Regions from separate parts of the Homo sapiens genome. Here all the other regions are reported to be linked to region 1. Evidence: microRNA targets listed by miRTarBase, many of them from high-throughput screens and not tested one by one. Region 1 holds a microRNA gene; each other region holds the end of a gene's coding sequence.

Region 1 (4,106 bases):
TCCCCGGTGGCTGCCCCCTCCCCAGGCTGGGGCCTTGTGTGGGGGTGCGGTCCCAGGCGCCCTGGTTGCAGATGGAAAAGATGAAACAATGGGTCATCCTGGCCTGGTGGGTTTTGGACAAAGTTCCTGTTCTTGTTGACTGGGGGAAGGAATGAGACCCCTTGTCCCTCAGAGGGCAAGCGCAGAGCGTCCCCGCTCCCCTGCATGGTGGGGCTCGGGAATCTGAACCCACCTTGTCCTTCCTGCGCCCCCAGCAGACCCTCCACGGAGCCCGGACCACGTGAGAGAGGCCACTGTTGCTCTTCCCTCTCCAGCCCTGGCATCCCAGCCCTATGGCCTTTCCTGGAGCCAGGTCACCCTAAAACCCAGCCTGGGAGGTTGGGTGGGGGAGGCACAGCGGCTCCGGGAGGGGGAGCAGGATGCCCTCCAGGCCACCTGTGGAGGCACCAAGGGGTCCTCAAGGTGTCAGACCCAGCCTGGGCGTGAGTGACCCCGGGGGCACCCCCGGCAGAGGCCGGCCCCTCCCCTGGGGGCTGGACTTCGGAGCTGACACAGGCCCTCTGCCGCCCGCTCAGCCCTCCGCCCTCACCCGTCTGCTGGCCCCGCTCGGCCCTCCGCCCTCACCCGTCTGCTGGCCCCGCTCGGCCCTCCGCCCTCACCCGTCTGCTGGCCCCGCTCGGCCCTCCGCCCCAGCCCATCCCTGGAGTAGGAGCTCCGGATGTGCCTCGGTGGTGTCCCCGGCGAGCGGCGGGTCACCTTTGAACATCGTTACCAGACAGTGTTAGAGTCAAGCTGGGAAATCCAGCACTGTCCGGTAAGATGCTCACAGGGGCCCGGGAGGGACGTGGGGTCCCGCCAGGCAGGCAGGGGCTGCTGTGGAAGCCCAGGGAAGAACCGGAGCGGTGAGCAGCCAGGGGTGGTGCCGGGACCGGACAGGGCTGGCGGAGAGGGGCTTGGGGGCCCTGAGACTGCACACAGGCCCACCCTCCCTGCTTCCTCCAGGGCAAGGGGACCCTGGGGCTGCTGACCCGGGACCAAGGCGGGGGCACTGGTCTGCTCGGTGGCCGGCCCACCCTGTCCGGCAGGAGGGAAGATGGCTGTGGCCAAGCTGGGTGGGGCGGCTTCCTCTGGGTTCCACGTGGCTCCCGGTTGGGCCTTGCCCTCCTGAGCCCTCTGTTGGGTCCTGCTCGGCCCGCACCTGCTGGGTGTGACAGCAGCTCCCGCCCAGGCGCTGTGGGCAGGGCCCGGACACCTGAGCGTCCTAATCCCCAGATCACTGTGGGGCGCCCTGGGTGCAGCTGCAGGAGGCCTTGCATTCCGGGGTCTCTGAGATGCTGGTGGGGGGCGCCCCAGCCCCCTTCCGAAGGTCACGTCCCCCCGTCACTCTCCCCAGAGCCATCTGGCCCGGACGGGGTGGGGTCCGGTGAGCGGGCTGTGTGGGAGGGGAGTGTGGGGCTCGGCGGGAGGCCCTGGGGGCCGGGACGGGGTCGGCCGGTCGCTGCGTGCAGGGCTCCGCCGTCATCATTACCAGGCAGTATTAGAGACCTGACTCCATCCAATGCTGCCCAGTAAGATGGCCACGGCTGCCCGAGCTGGGTCCGGGGGCCGCCCGGCTGAGGGTTGCATGGGACTCGCTGGGAAGCTCAGTAGCTGGGGGGCCTCGTCCTCCTGGGGCACTGAGGACAGCATCGCCGGAGGGCAGGGGCCCGGGTGAGCCCCACCCGCCAGCCCTGCCGAGTCCAGCAGCCACCAGCTTTGGGTCCTGGGGTGGGCACCTGGGGGGCCGAAGTGTCCTGGCCAGACGGCCGAGGACTAGGTCGGAGTGGGGCTGACACGGGCCCTCTGCCCGCCCCGCTCGGCCCTCTGCCCCCACCCCTCTGCGGGGGACCTTCCCTCTGGGTGGTCCCATAGGAAGGCCTGGACAGCAGCCCCAGCCCCCCGGGCCCCACGTGCTGCCTTGTCTGAGGCAGGGGACAAGGGCCTCTGTCTCCAGGATGGTGTTCCAGGAGCTGCTTCCCTGCCCAGCCCCTTCTCTTCTCAAAGGCCCGGTGTCTGCGAGGCTCTCGAGACAGAACGGTCCCCGCCACCTGGAGACCCCTCTCCCATGCTGCCCCGCTCACTGCACAGCGTCTGAGGGCAGGGGGTGCAGGCGGGGGTGGGGGTGGGGGTGTGGGTGGGGGTGCGGGCGGGGCAGGCTCCTGACCCTGCCCAGCCGTCCCTGCGGTTTGTGTGTCTGCTGGTCTGGGGTCTGACCCAGGCACAGAGGCAGACCGGCCACAAACACAGACACAGGCAGTCAAGCCTCAGACGCCGCGAGGGCTGAGCCGCCTCTGCAGGGGGGCAGGAGGAAGTGGGCAGCCCTGTGGCCCCTCCTTGCTCAGGGCCCTGCCTGGAGCCCAGAGACCCTAGGCTTCTACTCCAGGCACACTCAGGACCCGAGGGAGGTTCAGCCCTCAGGCCAGACCAAGGCTCCCCGCCCGCTGGACACGCCGTCCTTCCTGTCCTCCTTCCCACCCTTTCTCTGCAACCACCTGGTGCCAACTGGGCCCAGAGAGCTGGCCAGAGCCACTCTTCAAGTTTTCTGGCACCTTCCACCCACAGAGGCTGTAGGTGGGGCGCAGGCCCTGTGCCGATTCCCCTGTCTGCCCGCCGACCACAACAAAGGTCGTGTCCGCCCGCCCCCGCCTGCTGCCGGGTCCACCCGGTTCCAGTCTCCTCCTCCAAAGGCCACGTCTCCGAGGTCCTGACCCAGCTTCCCTCACGCCTGGACCCTCTCCGGAGACCCCACACCAGGTCCCCTGCCCTGGCCCCAGCCTGTCAGGCTCCAGGGCACCCGGCTTTCCCTTTCCATCACCTCACAGGCCTTCGCCACCAATGCCATCAAATCCCATCAAATCAGTGCTTCAGGAACACAATTTCACCTGTTTTCTGAGCTAAAGGAAACTAAGACTTCCCGTTCAGAGCAGAGTTGAATTTCAGCTCCATTCCTGGCTGCCAGGTCACGTGGGGAGGGCAGCAGGTGCCCGGCACTCGTCCCTTGCAGCTGGGGCCAAACACAGTTCCCAGCCCACCCGGCGGACGGGCCGGCCTCCCACTGCCAGGTTCAGGGCCCGGGGCCAGTGTCCCCAGGCCCTTGGCCACCCAGGGCCAGCCTTCTCAGGAACCCCACAGGGCCAGAGCTGGCCTGGCCACCCCAGGCTCATCAGTCATTGCGTTCTCACCCGGGAGGCTGAGGGGCACACGGCAGAGGCTGGGACCCAGGGACAGACCCGTGTGGCAGGCAGGTGGGAGAAGCCTCCTTCCTAAGTTCCAGGGCAGGATTCCCAGGCGCCTCCTGAGTGCAGAAGCTGTAAAGCCAACGAGCAGCTAGCAGGAGAGGCCGACCCTGGCTCCAGGGCTGGGTGGGGAGATGGTGGCCTGGGCCGGCAGGCTCAGCTGGGGGACCAAGGATTTCGCAGGGCCTTGTGCCTGGCACAGGGGTGAGGGGCAAGGAGTCGGGTGGGCAGGCGGCCGAGTCTTACCGTGGCCACAGGTCAAGAAATGAAAAGCGAAAACGGACCTTCCCTGTTTTCCGAGAGCCCCACGCGGCGCTTTCTTGTCAACCGTCGCCGGGAAGTGGAGCTAGCGTGGCGGTGCCGGTTGAGGTGTTGGGTTAATCATCACCGCGGGGCCAGACTCAGCTTGGGAAAATCCAGGAGTGAGTCAGGAGGCCCAGAGCCGCCCCAGCAAGGGGTTCTCTGCGGAGCACACTCCCCGTGGAGGCGCCCCTCGGCGCACCTGGCCGCCCTGCCCGCCTGCCTGGCCGGGTCCCACCTGCACAGGCTGGGGTGGGGTGGGAGCGCCCGGCGAGGAATGTGATCCCGGCGTGAAAACCTAACTTGTTGGTTAACCTGCCCGACGGGCTTAATCAATGGTGCGGCCTCGAGAACAAAGTGTGAAATCCAACCCTCCCCGACCGCGGGAGCCGAGCCGGGAGTCAGAGGCTGCCGGGGGGTGGGGTGCGGAGCTCGGCCTGGCGGGCACTCAGGTTCTTCCCTCTGCGTCGCCGGAGCTACGCGTCTGGGAGGCAAAGCCGCCATTTCACCCACACGGCGGGCGTGGATTTG
Region 2 (4,106 bases), not on the chromosome of region 1:
CACTGTGGCCAGCGGGGGAAGCGGAGGAGACACCTGTGGACACCCTCCCCACAGGTGGGCACACCTTTGCGCAGGCCCAGTGTGCGTTCTGAAGGAGAGCCCAGGGTGGGGTTCCGGGACTGAGGTGCAGCCGTGTCCAGGGTGGGCTTCTAGCTCTGCCGCTGGGCGGAACTGGGGTAGGTCCCAGGGTGGGGTTCCAGGACTGAGGTGCAGCCGTGCCCAGGGTGGGCTTCTAGCTCTGCCGCTGGGCAGAACTGGGGTAGTCCCAGGGTGGGCTTTTAGCTCTGCCGCTGGGCGGAACTCGGGTAGGTGGGAGTCCTCACTTCTCTGCAGGGTGGTGAAGCTCTCTGGGTAGTGTGAGCAGTTCTCAACGTGCACCTTGGAAAGCGCCCGTTTTGAGGTTTAGCTGTGGCCAAGATAGATGACTTCATTTTGTTGCTTTTTGTTCTTAACATGGGGAGATATTTAGAAAACATGTTTGGCTCTTGCTGGGGAAGCAGTGCTGTTCCGTACAGTGTTTTACAAGCCGTGTTTCCTTAGGATTGAAAGAAGGTGGCAAGAGGAAGAAGCAGAAGCAGAGAGAGGAGTCGAAGAAGAAGAAGTCGACCAAAGGCAATCACTAGACCGGACTTGAGGCACGCGGTGCACCCCCAGACGCTGGCGCTCCACCGTGCTCGGCATGCGGTCGTGCACACGCGCTAGGTAGCAGCGTCGGTCAGGACTGTCTCGAGGCCACACTCGCTCGGCAGGATTATGCGATCACGGATCAGTCAGAGCAGGGTCAGGAGACGGGGCTGACGGCACGGGTGGCGGGGACAGACGTTTGGGACTTGGCCGCGACTCTCTGCTTCTCTCCAGCTCTCAATCTGCTGCATTTTCCTCTAGTGCTTCCGGATCCTCTTCATTCTTTTCGGCTACTCAACCACTCCGCATGCTGCTGGAATATTTCTGGCTTTAGAAGTACAGGAGGGCGCAGATGGCTAACTGAGTAACATTCATGAAATGAGGCTTTCTGTGGCGGCGTAGTGTTTGGAATTAGAAGGTAATTCAGTAGAGTGTAACTTAGAGAATATTGCAAGTGACACATTGAATCCTGCCCGTCAGGGCACCTTTTCCTCAGAGCAATCCGGCCACACGAATAGAAGGCTGTCGTGAATCACATCAGATGTAAAATCATTCCTTCTGTTTACTCTTTTAATTTTCATCCTTTGCAGGTAGTGCAAATTCAACTTCAAATATGGTGTAGGTTTTGCTAGATTCCATATTTTTTTCTTGGATTTTTGCTAATTATTTTTAGCAAAAAATTTTTGCTCAGTGGCACTCTCCCTAGTGTCCATGGGTTAGGGCCATGCTGGGGAAAACGGGCCGGTATTTACACACGCGCAAAACACCCAGAGACGGCACAAGGAGGTTGAACTCATGTTTCAGTTCGCGAACATTGACTCCTTACGAAAGTCACTTCATTCTAACTAGATGCGCCCACTTCCGGTCATTATTTCGTTTGCATGATGTATTGCTTCTTCACGTTTTGTTTTTATTGAGCACGGAGTAGAATTCCAGGGCTGCCTTGACTTCTTCCCTGCATGCTCCCTCCCAGTGACTTTCCTTCCCTTTCACATGAGGATCTGCCGTTCATGTTGCTTTCTCCTTTGTCCTCTTGGACTTGAGGGCATTGTGAAAAGCTTTGCTGTGATTTAAAAATGCCAGCAATTTTAATCTAGCAGTGTTGAAGCTGGGAATTTTTTGGCGCAATCCATGTAGCAGTGACCCAGGCTTGGGAGCCAGAAACAAGTGTGACCTGGGATTTTATTTAACACAACTGTTGCCAAAGAGTTGGCTTTGTTTATTTGGTTTTGGCGGGGAGAGGAGTGGTATTTGATGCTTTCTGTGGACAATGTAACCCTAAACACATCATGTATTTTAAATGCCACCTACATAAATAAAACATAAGCATATTGAATACAGCTCGCCTGCTGTCCTTTGTAAGCGCCAGTAAGTTGCACCGTTAAGACTGACTAGAAATAAAAGCAATTCTTCAACATTACGATTACAAAGGATGAAAGTGGTGTTTTGCAGGCAGAAGCCTTGCTTCCGAAATGCGTCACTGTAAGGCGAAAACATGACTTTAAAGCTAACACCCCCGGCTGGGCAAAGTGGCTCACGCCTGTAATCCCAGCACTGTGGGAGGCCAAGGTGGGCAGATCACCTGAGATCAGGAGTTCAAGACTAGCCTGGCCAACATGGTGAAACCCCATCTCTACTAAAAATACAAAAAATTAGCCGGGTGTGGTGGCACACGCCTACAATCCCAGCTATTCGGGAGGCTGAGGCACGAGAATTTCTTGAACGAGGGAGGCGGAGCTTGCAGTGAGCCAAGATCGCACCACTGCACTCTAGCCGGGAGACAGAACGAGACTCCGTCTCAAAAAAAAAAGGCCGGGCACGGTGGCTCACGCCTGTAATCCCAGCACTTTGGGAGGCCGAGGCGGGTGGATCACGAGGTCAGGAGATCCAGACCATCCTGGCTAACACGGTGAAACCCCGTCTCTACTAAAAAATACAAAAAATTAGCCGGGCGTGGTGGCGGGTGCCTGTAGTCCCAGCTCCTTGGGAGGCTGAGGCAGGAGAATGGCGTGAACCCGGGAGGCAGAGCTTTCAATGAGTCCAGATTGCGTCACGGCACTCTAGAGAGAGCGAGACTCTATCTCAAAACAACAACAACAACAAAAAAGTAACACCCCAACGCACAGATGAGGTGGAAACTCCCGCAGCCTTCACAGGAGGCATTGAGGGTCCCGAGAGGAAAACCTCGTCGACTCACCCTGGCTCTGCTGGCGACCAAGACTGGGCCAGACACGCGCTCAGTGCTGACATCCTGGCGTCCGGCCTTCCTGGTGACAGGGGAAGGCGGTGCAGTAAGTCGCCTTGCGGGCCGGGGTCGGGGGTGTTTTTAAAACAAGATTAGTCCTTCTCAACTGCTCAGATCCCAGAATCTGCTGCTGAGATTGTGGCGAGGGAGGCAGGTGGTTCGACAGGTTTAGAGGTGACTGTTGTGCCCTCAACCCTGCCCACTTGACCCTCAGGCCGTCCCAGGAGCGTGGCCGGGCTGCCTCAGCAGGGGCACAGCTAGGGAGCGTGGACAGAGCCGCGAGCGCCTTCCAGACAAGCCAGGCCACACACAAGACAGGCTCTTGGCAAAGGGGCCAGAGCCCCGTCTTCACACGGCCTGGCTACCGAGTCAGCTCATGTCACAGGTGGGTCCTCCCTTCGCTGAGAGGGAGAGACCCCGACCCCAGGAGGAGAAGGGAGCTGGTGTCCATGGGGCCCGGCAGGTGCATGGCCAGCAGGTAGGCATCTGCTTCTCAGGTGAGGAGGGGTATTGGGGTCTACCCGACCCCTGCGCCCAGCGCCCCATCCCCCTAGGGCGGGTCCAGGAGCTCTGTGCTGCAGATAGAGCCCGCGGCTGCTTATGCCAGCGTCTGCTGAGGGGGTGGATGCTGCAGATAGAGCCCGCGGCTGCTTATGCCAGCGTCTGCTGAGGGGGTGGAGAGGGAGCCCGGCCCCTGGGTGTGCTCGGCAGCTGCTGAGATGATGGCAAGGGGGAGCGCGGCACCTGTCGTCGTCACCTTTGTGACGTCCCAAGCACTGGGGGGCCCTGCGGGGGGTGGGGAAGGCAGTGAGGTGCTGGTGGGTGGGAGGCAGGGGGGCTGTGGACGGTGTGGCAGGGACTGCAGTTGTGGGACTGGGGTGGGGAGTCCTGGGGGTGTCAGGACCACAGTGGGGCTTCCTGGCCACCCCACTGCCAATCCCAGGGCCACCCTGTACGCCATTCACTTTTGTCAGGGGCATAAAGGGCTGCAGAACCCACTTTCTGTAAGTAAATACATTTAAACATCCTGAAACGTTCACACCCTAACCCTAACCTGGGGGTCCCACGTGCCTTCCCTCATGTGGGTTGCACAGCTGGAGACAGAACCAGGACGTGGCGCCGTCACCAGGGAGAGCTCTCTGCTCTTTTGTTCATAGGCCTGGAAAAGTGGGACCATGACGTGAATAACCACACCTGTGTTTAACACATTTTGTTTTGTTTTTGTTTGTTTGTTTTT
Region 3 (4,106 bases), not on the chromosome of region 1:
GGTTGCAGTGAGCCGAGATGACGCCACTACACTCCAGCCTGGGTGACAGAGTGAAATTCTGTCTCAAAAAAACAGAAACCAAAAACTACCTCCTAGACTTGTAGAAAATATTAAGTAATTTTATTTATTTATTTATTTATTTATTTTGAGACAGCGTCTCCCTCTGTCGCCTGGACTGGAATGCAGTGGCACAACCTTGGCTCACTGCAACCTCTGCCTCCCAAATTCAAGCGATTCTTGTGCCTCAGCCTCTCTAGTAGCTGGGATTACAGATGTGTACCATCACACCTGGCTAGTTTTTATATTTTTAGTAGAGACAGGGTTTCCCCATGTTGGTCAGGCTGGTCTTGAACTCCTGACCTCAAGTGATCCTCCTGCCTCAGCCTCCCAAATTGCTTGGATTACAGGTGCTCCAGGCCAAGATTAAGTAATTTTTTGTGAAGCACCAAGAGCCACAGCTGGATATCATATTACTTAATCTCTCCTGGAGTTATGGTGAGATTAAACAGTTATAAGGATGCCTGGCACAGAGTCCGAGCTAAATGAGTGATGGATGTGGTTACTGGTGGTAACATGCTTTAGATATGGAAGATATTATAGGACTTCCTGCATGCCAACTGCCCTTCAATTTGTGTGGGGGGGAAGGGTGGGCAGAAGGCAGAGGCTCTCACTCATTCTCTAACATTATTGCCCCCTCTCCCACAGATGAGTCCTGCCGGCGGTGACCATCTTCCAACATAGGGATATACCTCCCTCCTTCTTATAACTGAAGATCCTGGAGCCCGGAAGATTCAGGGCAGACAGACCCTGATAATGAGCCTGGCAGGGAAGGGCAACCAACATCTTGTAACTTGCTTTCCCCACCCTGTTTCTGGGGGCAGAGCCAATTGCCCAATTTCTACCCTAATCCAAAGTCCCTGGTGTGGGTGGGGTTAAACGTGCTGGTGCATCCTAGGTCATCCAAGAGTGAGCGCCAAGTCCTGAGAAGGGGCACAGAACTCCCTGGAGGGTGGAGATGGAGCACCTGCCCCCCATGGCAGGGTACACTCTCCCCACAGCCTTCCTCCCCACCATCCCGTGGGGACTCTCGGGATTTAAGCACTCGTCTCTCTGGGAGGCCCAGACCCCACTCCATTTATAGGCACATCTCCTTCATTTCCTAGGTCACTGCCCCTTTGTTTACAGCTCCTGCCTCCTCCCTTGACCACAGCCTGGTTTACAAATTCCATCAGCTCCCAGCCCCACCTGCCAAAGTCCCAGGTTTACAAGCCACGCTTACTTGCTGTGTCTGCGTGGAATTCTCTCCTCTGTCCCCTCCAGTCTCCTCATTGGAGTGACCTGAAGGTGTGGCTTCCTCCACTTTTTCTCAGTATTACTTTGCCTTAGTTTTCCCCAAGAGGGAAGGCTGGAACTCTTAACTCTGTACCCCTTGATAGTTATTTAATTCTGTTTCTCCTAGTGGTTCACAATTGAACTGAATTGAGATGGTGTCGGGTGGCTAAGGAGACACCTCACCTCTCCTTCCCCATTGTGCCGCCTTTATCAATTGCCTGTTTTGTTTTGTTTGTTTTTTAACTTTCCATAATAAAATGGAGTTCTCTTCAACTCGTCTGCTTCTCCTTCTTTGGGAAAAAAAAAGGGTATGTGAGGGGAGGCTCTGGTGGCTGGGGGAGAGGAAAATGATGGGGGATGAACCAGGAACTCGGCACTGACATGTCAAAAGGGGTCTGGGAAGCTGCACGTGGGTTTCACGCAGGACAAGCAGGTGACATGAGAAAGGGCAGTTGAAGTGTCCACTAGACTGGAAGTGCCATGAGGGCTGACTACATCAGCTGGATTCACTGCAATATCCTGTACCTGTCAACTAGTAGACACGGAATTATTTCTAGAATGAATGACAACAAATGAATGAATAGAAGAAAAGGGTTAAAATATTACAGAGGACACTTTGAGTTGAAGGGTTCTAGTATTCAGAAGCCTGCTGCCATGAAGGCAGCTAGGTAGTGTATGACACAACCCATGTGGCTAATCCAGGGATACTTACTTAAAGAGCTGGGGCTACGAATACTAAATCTGAAATTGCTGCAAAATGAAGTAAGTATGTACAAGAGTCAGTTTCCTGGAAAAGGTTCCCCTCTGATAGACAATGGATTTTATATCGTTAAAGGCCTAAAGGCCGGGCACGGTGGCTCACGCCTGTGATCCCAGCACTTTGGGAGGCCGAGGCAGGCGGATCATAAGGTCAGGAGATTGAGACCATCCTGGCTAACACGGTGAAACCCCGTCTCTACTAAAAATACAAAAAATTAGCGGGGCATAGTGGTGGGCACCTGTAGTCCCAGCTACTCGGGAGGCTGAGGCAGGAGAATGGCATGAACCCGGGAGGTGGAGCTTGCAGTGAGCTGAGATTGCGCCATTACACTCCAGCCTGGGCAGCAGAGTGAGACTCCATCTCAAAAAAAAAAAAAAAGGTTTAAAAACCATCTTGATAGTGCATGGCTTTGGTGCCCATGTAGTTGATATTTGGAATTTTCCCATTTCAAAGAATATCTTATACAAATGTGGAACATCAATATTTTACTCATCAGGAAAATTTGTTTGTTTGTTGTTAGCTCTCCAGGCTAACAAAGATATGGTTGAATAGTTATAGTCCTTCTACCACTACAAGTTGCTCCTCTCAGACTGGTCAGAGGAGGCCCCACACCTTTACTATAAAACAAAATATATGAGACAAATTGAACTTAAGCATACGCCAAAGGTTTTCAATTTACTAGCAAGAGAACAAGCCAGGTGTCAAAAGACTCAGCCAGTTCAGAGAAGGTCTGGGTAGGGAAGGAAACAGAATGATTATATTAGTAGCCTGTTAGGTAAAGGTCTTAAAAAGTTTCCAGTTGTGACCCAGGAAAACAGAGTTAGGAAGCTCCGAGGTGCCAGGGGTGCTCACAGTCCATCTCAGAAACAGAAAACAATGCATTCAAGAGGTCAGGCCAGGTGTGGTGGCTCATGCCTGTAATCCTAACACTTTGGGATGCCAAGGCGGGTGGACTGCCTCATCTGAGGAGTTTGAGACCAGCCTGGGCAACATGATGAAACCCCGTCTCTACTAAAATACAAAAAATTAGCTGGACGTGGTGGCACGCACCTGTAGTCCCGCCTACTCAGGAGGCTGAGGCAGGAGAATTGCTTGAACCCAGGAGGTGGAGGCTGCAGTGAGCCAAGATCACGCCACTGCATTCCAGCCTGGGCGACAGAGTGAGACTCCGAGACTCCCTTTCCAAAAAAAAAAAAAAAAAAGTCAGTGATGTAGATCCACTTGTGGCTATTAATAAGAACAATGTTTCATTTCCTAACAGTAGTGCCTGGTAACTGCAATTAATCACAAAAGTATGATGCAGGATCAAACAAATCAGACAGCAGAGCATCGAGTAACAAATTCAGCTTTTTGTTTTGTTTGTTTTTTTTTTTTGAGCATAGTCTTGGTCTGTTGCCTAGGTTGGAGTGCCTGACCTCGGCTCACTGCAACCTCTGGCTCCTGGGCTCAAGAGATTCTCCTGTCTCAGGCCCAGTGCGGTGGCTCACGCCTGTAATCCCAGCACTTTGGGAGGCCGAGACGGGCGGATCATGAGGTCAGGAGTTTGAGACCAGCCTGACCAACATGGTAAAACCCCATCTGTATTAAAAATACAAAAACTAGCTGGGCGTGATGGCATGTGCTTGTCACACTTGTAATTCCAGCTACTCAGGAGGCTGAGGCAGGAGAATCACTTGAACCTGGGAGGCGGAAGTTGCAGTGAGCCGAGATCGTGCCATTGCACTCCAGTCTGGGCAACAGAGCGAGACTCTGTCTCCAAAAAAAAAAAAAAAAATTCTCCTGTCTCAGTCTCCAGAGTAGCTGGGACTACAGGTGCACACCTCCACACCTGGCTAATTTTTTGTAGAGATGGTGGGGTCTCACCCTGTTGCCCAGGCTGGTCTCAAACCCCTGGTCTCAAGATATCCTCCTGCCTCAGCCTCCCAAAGTGCTGGGATTACAGCAAGAGCCACTGCACCTGGCCTTGCTTACTTTTAAATAAGCAGCCACCAGTGATTTTCTCAAGCTGTTAAGC
Region 4 (4,106 bases), not on the chromosome of region 1:
AATGTGTATATGTATGTATATTTTAATAACCACATAGACTAAAACTATCCAACTGAAACAACTTAGGTATACTTTGAGAAATATAAAATGAAATTGTAAGGTAGAGGTAGCATTAATAAACTATCTAGTATACCATTAAATAAGTTTGTGGTGATTGGTGATTCAACACCCGAATCATCTAGGTAAATCCTGAAAAACTCATATTTTATTAATTGCTTCTCCTTCCCCTTCTTTCCCCGTCCCCACTCCTTTCTCGTCTCTTTCCCCCCCTCTCCTTTTCTCCCATCTTTCACTTCTAATTTCAGTGAAATTGGAGCGATTTGAAATTCCAATCAAGGTTCGATTAAGCCCAGAGCCATGGACCCCTGAAACTGGTTTGGTAACTGATGCTTTCAAACTGAAAAGGAAGGAGCTGAGGAACCATTACCTCAAAGACATTGAACGAATGTATGGGGGCAAATAAAATGTTGTTGTCTTATTGACAGTTGTGCAGGAGGTAGCCTGGTGGTTTTCAACCTCTAGAATTTTAAGCCTTTGTTGAACTGTTAGAATGTAAGGTATATCATTCTAAAGATAGAGTAAAAAGAAAACAAAACCAAAAGTTATTAAAATTGTTGTCCGGTTTACTTTAACTTAGTTTTGCATAGTTCTAGTGCAGCTGAAATTGAAAAGTTATTTCCCTTTAGCTGTGTTATTATAGAGCAGAAATTCTGTTTTTAAAAATTAGCCTAAGATATACTTGTTTTTGTAAAGAAAAATATTTAATGTTGAACAAAATAAATTGGAGTTGGAGTAGAATGTAGTTTGAGGAAATTTGCAGCTTCCAATGCCTCTTGTCTTCCTATTTCAGAAGTTTAAATATTAAGCATGACAGAAAATATGTATTAACACTACTCAAAGCAAAAGTGCTGCAGGGCTTTAAAATTCTCTTCCAACCATTTATCTTGAAGGAAAAATTCAATAGTAATATAATACACAAAATCAAATAATACCTTAGAAGGTATTAAGATTATAATTGTTGCATAGGTTAGATATAGAGTCATTGTAATGTTGTGAATAATTACAGTGCCTAAAATAAGAATAGAACAACATATACAACACCAAAAAATATCTAGTAATATATTTAAAGGGAAATTGAGCTGCTTTTTTTGAAACTTTGAGATCTAAAAATAACTGTAATTATTTGAATGACTAAGAGGAAAGTACATTTTTTGAAATGCTGAAAATTGCCTTTCTGTGTTTATTCAAACTGAAAAGCTGAGACCAAGAGCAAGGAAGGTAAAAAGTTAACAGGCAAACATTTTCTCTTAGAAAAGGTGATAAAATCATAAGTATTTGGAATTAGAACCCTTGCACAGCACTGAACCTGGGAAAGAGATTTAAACTCTGAATTTATCTTTGATAACAGGGATTGATTTTAAAATGTACATGTATTAAATTACATTTGTAATTTAAGGTCTGTTTGCTGTTGCTGATTTTATTCTTGATCAGTAGTTTGCATTTCAGAAAGCCTTTCATTTTGCTTTAATTTTAGCAAAGCGGGTTATAATGAATGACTTCCCCAATATCTTGCTTGAACTTACAGGTGATTAACTTGGATGAGTTTTGGGAAGTTAAAGGGAAGAAAACACTGTTATCATTTTTTCCTGTTTGGGAAGAGCTTAGAAACTGGAAATACTAGATTTGGGAGAAGGGCAGAGTTACTTGATAAGGGACTGATGTTTGTGCAGTAACTTGGGAGTGTGGTTTCTTTTTGAATCTTTAATTAAAACCTGGGATTATATATCCCTGATAAATATTCACACTTGAACCATAGTTACTGTAAAATGCAAAAAATCTTAATACTGTTATTCTTTGCACTTTTTCTTAATCATTTTTTATATATATGCATATATATATGTGTGTGTGTGTGTTGCTTATGTTGTTTTGTACAGATGTGGGCCACCATTGCAACAAAATACATTCTTTTTGCTCTAAAATATTTATGAAGAAAATACTTAAATGTTATGTATATGGTGGTAATAAGGGAAAAATCAAGTATTATAAACAAGAATGAAGGTTTTTGTAAAGATTTCTGTTCAGCGTTTTGCAAGGTAAAATTTTAGGCAAGTTTTCCCTGAAGTTATGTGTATGTGAGTATTCTCATTCTTCCCAACTTGCCTTTGAAGAGTGAAATACCATTATTATCAAGTAGACTACTGTTCAGCTTTTATTCCTGCCCTGCTGTTTATCCCTTAAGAATGAGTTTCTTAGACTTTTCCAATATGTGATTTTTTTTCCCATTTAGAATGGTGATTTTAAATGTGTGAGTGCATGTACTATCTTATCTCAGATATTTGCACCCCCAATCTGCCCCCAACTCCCAAAAGCTAGAACACTGCCAACTGATCTGTTATAGGTCCTTTAGAAACACATAATTAACACTTAAGGTTGGGTGCTGCTAATTCTTTGCAAAAATCCAAATATTGTTAAGGGACCAGGGAGATGCCACTACCCCTTGATTTTCCATCTAAAAATATACATGTTTATGTAAACAAATCTTTCCATATCCATAGTGACTTTTCAAGTATTTAAGCCTAAAGATTTTGATCTCACATTTTTATACCTGTTTAAATTGCTCACAGTTATTACATACACATCAGCCATCAACTAAAGTTGTACTTTAAAAATTTACTACAATATGTACATTTCTAAGTCAAACACTTGTGACTTTTGCTTTAATTCCATGAATGTTCCTGCCTCCTTGATATTTGTATTTATTCTTTTTTTCTCTAGAGTAGAGGTATAATTGTGTGATATTTCAGAAATACAGATAAATGATTCAAAAAGTCACAGTTAAGGAGAATCATGTTTCTTTGATCATGAATAACTGATTAGTAAGTCTTGCCTATATTTTCCTGATAGCATATGACAAATGTTTCTAAGGTAACAAGATGAGAACAGATAAAGATTGTGTGGTGTTTTGGATTTGGAGAGAAATATTTTAATTTTTAAATGCAGTTACAAATTATAATGTATTCATATTTGTACTTTCTGTTAAAATGCATGATTGCAGAATTGTTTAGATTTTGTGTTTATTCTTGATGAAAAGCTTTGTTTGTTCTTGTTTTTAAGTTTGCACTCAAATCTTAAGAAATAAATCCACCCATGTTATCAAGCCAATTTGTACTTCATTATGCATTGAGATAAAATCTCCAAGTTTGAAGATTATTAACCAAACTTTTAAACACATATTTTTAAAGTACTCATCTCCAGGTTTATGGAATTGCATTAAGCAGTTAAACCGGCTTGTATAGTCCCATCCATTAGTTCAGAGTATTTGAATCCCAAACTGTTACTTTGGTCCAGTCAATAGAGTAAAACCCCTTTGTAACACTGATACTTTGGGACAAAACATGGATTATCAGTGGGCGCTACCAAATTATAACTGCTACTTTTAGGCTAATTAATATTTTAGAGAGAAATTAATTTGAGTTATATGAGGGTGTGTATAAAATGGCATTAAGAGCTCTATTTCCTGGCTTTGCCACTGTAGTTGTGTAACCTTCAGCAAATTAATTAACATTTTGGAGCTGCATTTCTTCATCTGGAAAAATTGGGTTGATGGATAATAGGATCTGCCTAATAGGATTGTTGTGAGAGTTAAAATGTAAAGTGTTTAGAACAATAGCTTATGTTAGCTATTATTATCATAATTATTATTGTACCTAGACACTATTCATCAGTCAGGTTGTTTAAAGTATTGACTAGCATACTCAGGGCCTTAAAGAACTGACTGCCCCTGAAGATTTTGTGAAAAAAGTTCTAGATCTAGAGGTCAGGAGACCTGGGCTTATTGACACTAGCTTTGTAACCATGGGCCAATCTCATAACCTTAGCCTTAGCCTTAGTTTCTTCTTCCCATTAAAAAACAAACAAACAAACAAACAAAAATTCAAAAATGATGCCTTTTGCAAAAAGGGAAAGACAAATGACAAAAGAAATAGGGAACATGATAGTCCTTATGGTCCATCATGTCTAGCTTTAGTATTGTGATATTACTGTTCCAAGCTCTATTTTCTTAAATGATGCCCTAGGTTCTGAGTTTCCTATAGGGCTATGAGGCT
Region 5 (4,000 bases), not on the chromosome of region 1:
AATTTAAGCAGATATGCTTTTCATTTGGATAAAATTGGAAATGGTGTAATACCTTGAGAGAATGGTTTTCCTAAGACGTTACCATGTTAAAAAAGTCCCCATGTCTATAGAAAATGCAAAACCCTGAAATATCTAATCAACTAACTGTACTCATGAAATGCATAATATTCATGCAGATATAAGCAGTGGTTTATTTCTAAGGTTGCTTAACGAATACAAGTCAGCAATTTAAGTTCTCAAATAGAAAAGAAAATGTGCTTGAAACCTTTTAAGGCAATGGTATTTTGTACTAACAAAAACATTTCATATTGGTTCTCTGAAATAGCCCTCAAGTAGTCATTTCTAGTTCAAAGAGGATAGGCCAAAAAAATTAGGTATTCTATTAATTATTAATACAATCTGTTGCTACAAAGCAATATACGCAGCCACTCATGACATTCAAGAAACCATACATCATGTTAGAAATTTCTTTTAGATGACTCTGAATAAGAACTTTAACCAGAAGGAATCTGAACACACGGAGGAAGACCAAGGTGCACATTTAACTGCTTTCAAAGATAAACCTAGGGCTGACAACAGGACTTTTTTGGTATTTACATACCTGCAATTAGGAAACTGTGAGGTTTTACCACTACCGGATACTGCCGCCCGTTAAGTAGGCCTCTAAGAATGTTTCAGTGAACAAACCACCCTTTGCTTTGGTTCTGAAAATACCTATTTTGAAATAGCTAAGGCAAATATTCAGAGGGACACAGCTCAATATTGGAAAACTGAATGGAAGAGGTAGAAATAAAGCCTTTCTTTGCAATGTGCTTCTGTGTAAAGGTAACAAATCAGTGATCTAGGGAAAACACAACTTAAAAATGACTCACTCTTTTATAGGATGTTTAAAGATAATGCTTTTTAATATTTCAAATATTTTTTTAAATCTCATCAAAAATGTTATCACCTTAACAGTACTTTGCACATGTGGAATTTCATACCTAAATTTGATACTATTTTGGTTTATTTATGGCTACTTACAAGAGTCACAGTAATAATGTCCACTCATCAGAGTCTTTCTTTGGTAGAGCCTAATGGGACCAGACAGATGAACTGTTATGCAAATGAGATGGATAAAGCAAATTCATGATAGTATGAATTATAAGGGTTTTTGTTTAATGGAAATACAACTTAAAAAGGATTTCCATATTTATCCCCATCATTATTTTGGAAGCTTAATACCCTGTTCAGGGGTTGAAGAGTTTGAATAGCTCACACAATCCTGTAAAAATGACAACTGGCTGCCCTTTAATAAATAAAGTCATTGTAAAGAATTACATTTACAGAGTGAAAAGTGAATACATAGCATTTCAAATTCAATTTTGGAAGTACTAATAAGTACTGACCCATAACAATATACACTAGCTATCTTTTTAACTGTCCATCATTAGCACCAATGAAGATTCAATAAAATTACCTTTATTCACACATCTCAAAACAATTCTGCAAATTCTTAGTGAAGTTTAACTATAGTCACAGACCTTAAATATTCACATTGTTTTCTATGTCTACTGAAAATAAGTTCACTACTTTTCTGGATATTCTTTACAAAATCTTATTAAAATTCCTGGTATTATCACCCCCAATTATACAGTAGCACAACCACCTTATGTAGTTTTTACATGATAGCTCTGTAGAGGTTTCACATCTAAATTACCAAGAAAGCCCTTCCCTCCCTCATCTTGCACTCAGCTTAATTCTATACTAGTCCTTGGATTATGTACCACTGTAAAAGTATAACTGTATCAAAATTACCATGTTTATGGATACAATATTATGCCATACAGAGCAACAAAGTTACATATAATGACAAAGATTACTGAAGTTATGCAAGACCAGAACAAATGTTAGGACATGCTACCTAGGCACAGTCCCTACAAAGAGGCTCCTAAGTACCCCAAGTTCAAATAACATTGACAAAATAATGAACAATTATCTTTAAAAATTATAAAGCTACTGGCAAATTAGGTAATTGCTAAATAAAGGTAGAGCATGAGATTAAACTCTAATATTTACAACTGCAACATACTTAATTACAATTGTGCACGTATCAGTGGCTTTGTAACAAAAATACAGAGAAAAAATTAAGTTTTCAGTTCAACAAGAGGTCGAATCCAATCAATCTCAAATATACTCAACAACTCAAAAGATTTACCACAGAATAAATTCAAGATTAGCTGATAAACAAGAGCCATATTACTGGTGTTTAAGACAAAATCTAAACAAGTTAAAATCTAATGCTTGATCAGAAGTCAGATGACTGTGCAAACTTTACCTCAACAGAAATATACTGAGATGTGCAAACAAATGTAAAACCTCCACTACTGGTTTGCCTGGGAGGCTGACCTTTTCTTTCTTACAGAGCTTCCTGATAACCATAAACTATAAATACAGGTACAATGCACAGTCAGTAATCTTTTCTTTTTTATTTATTGTTAGAATATAAAAGAATTGAGAGCATAGGTTTAATTTCATTTTTATAAGGAAGACTACATTTACCTGAAAAAGAAATATGGCATCACACACAAACACGCTTCAGGGAAGGAGTATATTTAAGAATATGGTGTCATTCTGAATGCTAAAGGAAAAGTGATCCCTGTTTACTATTAAAATATGTAGTGTAAAATTCTTTAAAGGAAACAACTCACTAAATCTCTACTAGGTAAGTTATTGTGAATTTAGTTTTCAAATCACAGTAATCCACATAACCATTATTAACAGCTCTGTTTCATAGAACTGCAACAAGCCAACAAACATTTAAATGCACTTCACATCAAGAGTATGTAAACTTTATTTTTTCCTCTTCAAGCCTTCAGAAAGTTAGGGGCTATTTCAGCAGCCAATCTGGTCAGAACCTCTGAAGGCAAAATTTCAGTGCCTCACAGTGTATATGACCATCTGTTGCACTGCACACATCTGGTAGTGAAGTGTCCCCTATCAGTGGCTTCCAGTAAGGCCTAGAGTTTAAGGTTAACATAAAAAAGTGCCACCTTTGTTTTAGATTAGTGATGGACTCTGACAAGATAAAATAAAGTTATTCTGTATATTGTTATACTTACAAGCAGCTCCAATCCTGAGTATTTACGGTAATATCTAAACATACAAAAATGTATGTACATTTTTCTCCACTTTCTTGTAAACAGTTGTCAGTATACTGTTTTATCCCTTTATCATTGAAACATGCAAATCATACATACAAGTATAAATACACAAAAGAAAACAATTTACACTCATTCAAAAGCCAAGCAACAAAAAATAGCTACAGTATTCAAATCATAAATAATGAATGCTTGAGGCATCTTATATTCCTAGAAGCAGCCAGCCATTCATCCTAATGTTCTTAGCTGCAATTGTAGAAATACTGAGTTTTGCACCTTCCATGCTTTTACAGTATTTATAACACTATCATATGTGGAGATAAAGACTTGTTTACTATAATCTCTTCTTTTCAGAATGAAGAATAAAGCAGCACTTACAAATATTGAAGCAGTGGCAGCAACAGCAGGGGTTACCACTGCTAGATCAGAAGGAATTTTTCCATTCTAACAATTTTTAAATTAAAAAAGTAAAGGAAAAATTGACCTAAACAAATTATTACATGTTCATTCCTTGGGCACTTAACAGTGAGTCCAGCATGTCGAATGTGTCTTTGTAGTCCATATGCTGGCTGCTTGTACTGTACTCGTGATTGGCATCAGGACCGTTGGTCTCCACTGGCTTCTTGTCCAGTTTCACGAGGGTGCTGAGATGTCCGTAGCCCACCTGGTATGTGACAGGGGGAGGAGGGGGTAAGGGATGGTTAAAAACAGAGTTGTGAGAGGATATATACTGCTTAACAGAGGAGGAAGAACTAGATGAACTACCTGAACTTTTGGAACTTTTGCTCATTTTGGAGTGGTGGTTGTGAGATGCATCATTGACATGCAGCCTCTTCCTTGAAGAGCTGGAGCTAGAGGAA
Region 6 (4,106 bases), not on the chromosome of region 1:
CTCCCCACCTTATAAACAAAACATGGCATTCAGTTTTCAGCTTACTCCTGTTCTGTAGCAATTTGTAATTAGCTTGTGACTTTACATAGGTGCAAACATTTCCATACATTGAGCCAAAGACTGCAGAGTGCAAACAAAATTTTATCTGACTTACAGTAGCATCTGACTTAATAAGAAAACAAAAGGATTTGAACACATTGGATTCTAAATAACCAGACCAGTTCAGATGCTCCTTTTTGTTCATAGTGTTCCATCATTATTTTGTTTCTCCAGCAATTTTAGTGGCAGGAAGTAGAATCACAATGATAACGTGGGAATTATTTTAACATGGCTTTGGGACATGGCATCGGTAGAAAGCTCATCTGACAGAATTAAATAAATATATTTCTGATATTTGTGGGAAAAAGACTATCGGAATTACAACAGTAGAATTTACCTTTTAAAAGGGGTTTTAATGAATTAACAGTTTTGATCTAAAATCTGGGAACTAACCTAATTTGGGGACAAGAACCTGTATTTCCAATGTGGCTGTGGGACATTTTTCTTTTTCCTGATCTCATATACAGTACCCAAACAAATAAAAACTTTAAGGATGTCTTACAGTATTTTTTCTTTCACTCAGCTTCTTACAGCTGCAGCTTCAGTTACTATAATATACTCTACACACTTCAAAATTACATAGGAAATACCCAGAATAACTAAATAAATAAAAGGCTAAAGAAAACTGGAACAGTACTGCGTCTCCATCTGAGACGCAATCTTCTACTTCCAGCATCGCAGAGAAGGGCTAGGACAATTTTTTTTCAAAAGATTTATATACAGGCTTGAATCCAGAAATTAAGGTTAAAAGCATAAATATTGATAATTTCAACTAAATTCAGAATGGTTTCAGAAAGATATGATACAACAATTTAGAATAAAACAAAGCAGAAGAGCATCATATTTTGGTTTGCTTGAGATATATATAAGGTGCAACAACTTTTTCTCTTGAGGATGCTGTGGGACAAATGTTAGTGTAGATGGTATCTGCTGGCAGATTAAAGTACACACTATAGCAATATGATTTTCCAAAATAAAAAAGAATGAGAGAAATGAAATGAAAATGATAACAAAAGGTGGGGTGGAGAGCACTAATATTGGTCTGAAATATTTGTGCTAACGAATGTTGTTACCTGAAAATAACAACACTCCTCTCCAGCAGTTTCAGGGCATGAGAAGCACAATTATTGAAATCAAGACTTTACTCAGAGAATCGACAAGGTGAGTCTAAGGAACTATAAAGCTTTGCAGGATTTCTGCTACTCTCAGTGCCTAACCGCTTAAAAATTAAGCATTTCTACAAAAAGGTTTGTTTTAAAGTATCTGAAAACAGTCATCTCCAGTAAGTTGCCCTCCCACCCCCAACCCTGCCTAAGGGAAAAGCCACTGAGGTTTAGGAAAAGCAGATCAAGTAAGATATTAATCACATAGAAAAAAAGTAATCTTTTGTTTTGCTTTTTTTTTTTTTAAAAAAGGTCCCAGGAATATACAGCAATCTCGTAAGGAACTCTAGTGAAATGTAATCGGAGGACTGAAGGAGGGTGCTCTGGCAAAAATAGATCTATTCTAACGTGTTCTATAGAATAACAAGTTAGTACCATTGTCAAGGTGCATGTTCCGCACCATACAATTTTTGTTGTTGGTTTTTTGTTTTGGATTTTAGCTAATTATAATCTTCAAATCACTGCTAGCGAGTGGTCCAAAACTCCAACAGCCACCAACATCGGGACCCAGCAATTTCAAACATTCACTTTTTGTTTTGAAATTTAGAAAATATTAATAAAACAGCATCATAGTAAAAATATTATGCAAAAGTCTGGAACTGCTCACTTGATTTATTCCTACATGAATGGGGTTAAGTTGTAACGTTTGATTAACCTTTTACTAATGCCTTCTTCCTCCATCCCCACCAGGAATATGCATTTTTGAGCACATCATTCCGATGCTTTGCTACCCTCTTTACCTGCTTTGGAAAAAAAAACAAGAAGAAAAACCTCTATTTTTTTTTCAATCCTGTTAGTATGTTGTACATATTTTCCAGCACCGGAACTGAAGTAATATCTACAACCATGAGAAGCTAAACCTAGTATGAATAGAGTCATTTTTTGTATGGCTATTACGTCAAATTACAATTAGAAAAAAAATCATTACAATTCAGTCAAGTATAAATAAGAAAGCTAGATAAAACCATGTAAACTGTCACCATTTAGAGATCTAATTCAAAAGCTTCAAACTCGAACTAGCACTGTCAAAATTCCGCCAGTTTGAAAACCATTAAAAATTATTGCTGGAATCCAATAATTAAAATTTGGTAGTTTGTGCTGTGACGCAAGAGTGGGGAAATACTTTGTGCTATAGAACAAATACCCTGTAAAATCTGTAGCCTCAGACTAATTTTGATTTATCACTTTGCATCTGTTGCTAGGAAACAAGACACTGTGAATGTCAGGTGGTTAAGTCAATATGTTGAATGTTCTAAGCCAGTTAATCCACTTGGCGCTGCTTATGTATGGTTGGTTTTATGTTCAAAAGCAACAAAACACAAAAAGGAAACAGAGACTTGCAGGTGGATCTATGACTGAGAGTCCCACTCTGGTCAGGCATACCTCCCTCATCATTGACTCAGTACCTCCTAAACAACACAAACTCAAAATGGCTCTAAAAACCTGCAGTGCCAATCAGGCTGTGCATAGCAATTGCAACCCGTCCAGCCAATCTGTGATGGATGTAAAAGGTCTGTAGCTCCAAGTCCACATGAAGTGAGTGTCTTCAATGTGTTTAGAATAGTGAAGTAATACTAAGGTCACTTCTGAATAATATTTTTGTCTTTTTTTTTGTTTGTATGAACAATCCATTGGTCACTTAGACCCCTATGTAAAAATAAAAGAATCCTCAAGGCATGAAAACACCAGTAATCTGTAATCTGCAGGACTCTTCCCCTGTCTGGGAAAATATTTGCCACAATTTGCCTCAAGCAAATTCTTCTTGGTCACTCAAGGCTAAGAAAAAAATTCAGATTGTAAGAGTTGTAATTTTTTCTCTCTCTCTTTTTTTTTTTTTTTTGCCAGCAAACTACCATTCTGGTGGCAAATATAAAAGTGCAGAATATATGGACCACGAGGCCGAGCATACACCACTAACAATGGTACATCTGCCTGCCCAGGCTGCTTGGGAGTCTCTGGAACAGGCTTTTTAATATTTATTCTACAATATAAATGTAGGTATAACCTATTATATAAACCATCTTAAACTTAAATCTCCATGTACAAAAAAGACTAAGAATATCTAATAATAACTAGTGCAGTGCGTCAGTTTTTGTTTTTTTTTTGTTTTGTTTTGAAAGAATAACTAGGTAATATATGAAACTAGTTTCACACTCTCTGGTTGGTAAAAGAGATGCTGGGTGAGCTACAGTAAAGGCAGCCTTTTACCAAGTTACCACCTATTACCGTCAAAAGCCTTCAATAGAAAGCAAAGCTCCAGGATCATTCTGTTTCTGCTCAGTATCAGACAGATAACCTTACCCTCAAAGATTCTGGGTTCTGAGAGAACAAACTGGCCCAGGATGCTAACTTCTGCTTCAAGTGAATCTGGGCCGTGTGGGGCAACAAGCACTTGTTTGCAGTCTATATTTTCCACCACTTGGACTCACTAGCATCCCTCGGTAAAGACAAGGCTAGGGTAGTAGGTAAAGCACAATGTTTTACAATGAAAGGGCGCTTCACTGGTCAGCGCAGGAAATAAGTACAGGAGCCTGCGGCATTTCTTTTGGCTGTCCATCATGGGTGAGCGGAGTTGACCTCTGACCTCTGTAAAATAAAAGGAAGAAAAAGTCACTTATTCAGCATATGTTATTAGAGACAGGAGAGGACGATGAATAACAAGTGTGTTCCAATATCTTGTTTAACAGTTACTGCTGTTACTTACATCATTTAATGAAAACTGTTTTTGCTTTAGAGTTTTTTCTCTTCTGTCCCCTTCCTTATCCTTTTTTTCCCCTTCCTCCTTCCCATTCTGTCTCCCTTCCTAAGATTTTATATCTGAATTCCCCTCATACAACTCAACAG

Evidence for each region. Region 1 holds the annotated microRNA hsa-miR-200b-3p (UAAUACUGCCUGGUAAUGAUGA, at 1,519-1,540, opposite strand). A microRNA usually pairs through its seed, bases 2 to 8, with sites in the 3' UTR of a target mRNA and lowers its output. Matches are read on the target gene's strand: a 7mer-m8 pairs with bases 2 to 8, a 7mer-A1 pairs with bases 2 to 7 and ends in A, and an 8mer does both.
Region 2: miRTarBase lists DNAJB6 as a target of hsa-miR-200b-3p. The part of its 3' UTR that is shown has no 7-base or 8-base seed match.
Region 3: the mRNA of PPP1R18 is a reported target of hsa-miR-200b-3p. Seed matches in the 3' UTR shown: 8mer at 1,368-1,375.
Region 4: miRTarBase lists ACSL4 as a target of hsa-miR-200b-3p. Seed matches in the 3' UTR shown: 7mer-A1 at 2,037-2,043.
Region 5: the mRNA of CCNT2 is a reported target of hsa-miR-200b-3p. Seed matches in the 3' UTR shown: 7mer-m8 at 3,400-3,406.
Region 6: the mRNA of BBX is a reported target of hsa-miR-200b-3p. Seed matches in the 3' UTR shown: 7mer-A1 at 2,832-2,838.

Annotation. Positions count from the first base shown.
Region 1 is chr1:1,164,594-1,168,699 of GRCh38, reverse strand. It overlaps MIR200B (microRNA 200b), which reads right to left and starts at 1,596; the gene lies at 1,502-1,596. MIR200BHG (MIR200B, MIR200A and MIR429 host gene) reads right to left here. Exons shown (of 2, transcript XR_007065348.1): 2 at 1-4,106. It overlaps MIR200A (microRNA 200a), which reads right to left and starts at 837; the gene lies at 748-837.
Region 2 is chr7:157,415,476-157,419,581 of GRCh38, forward strand. DNAJB6 (DnaJ heat shock protein family (Hsp40) member B6) reads left to right here. Exons shown (of 10, transcript NM_058246.4): 10 at 541-1,964. The coding sequence ends at 623. Among named protein-coding and RNA genes, the nearest start is that of DNAJB6, 81 kb to the left of the region's middle.
Region 3 is chr6:30,673,888-30,677,993 of GRCh38, reverse strand. It overlaps PPP1R18 (protein phosphatase 1 regulatory subunit 18), which reads left to right. Exons shown (of 3, transcript NM_133471.4): 3 at 706-1,605. The coding sequence ends at 725. Among named protein-coding and RNA genes, the nearest start is that of DHX16, 2.9 kb to the right of the region's middle. RefSeq lists a silencer at 2,896-3,035.
Region 4 is chrX:109,640,386-109,644,491 of GRCh38, reverse strand. It overlaps ACSL4 (acyl-CoA synthetase long chain family member 4), which reads left to right. Exons shown (of 16, transcript NM_001318510.2): 16 at 306-3,157. The coding sequence ends at 463. Among named protein-coding and RNA genes, the nearest start is that of KCNE5, 17 kb to the right of the region's middle.
Region 5 is chr2:134,954,285-134,958,284 of GRCh38, reverse strand. CCNT2 (cyclin T2) reads right to left here. Exons shown (of 9, transcript NM_058241.3): 9 at 1-4,000. The coding sequence ends at 3,637. Among named protein-coding and RNA genes, the nearest start is that of CCNT2, 37 kb to the right of the region's middle.
Region 6 is chr3:107,805,112-107,809,217 of GRCh38, reverse strand. It overlaps BBX (BBX high mobility group box domain containing), which reads right to left. Exons shown (of 18, transcript NM_001142568.3): 18 at 1-3,848. The coding sequence ends at 3,761. Among named protein-coding and RNA genes, the nearest start is that of LINC00635, 71 kb to the left of the region's middle.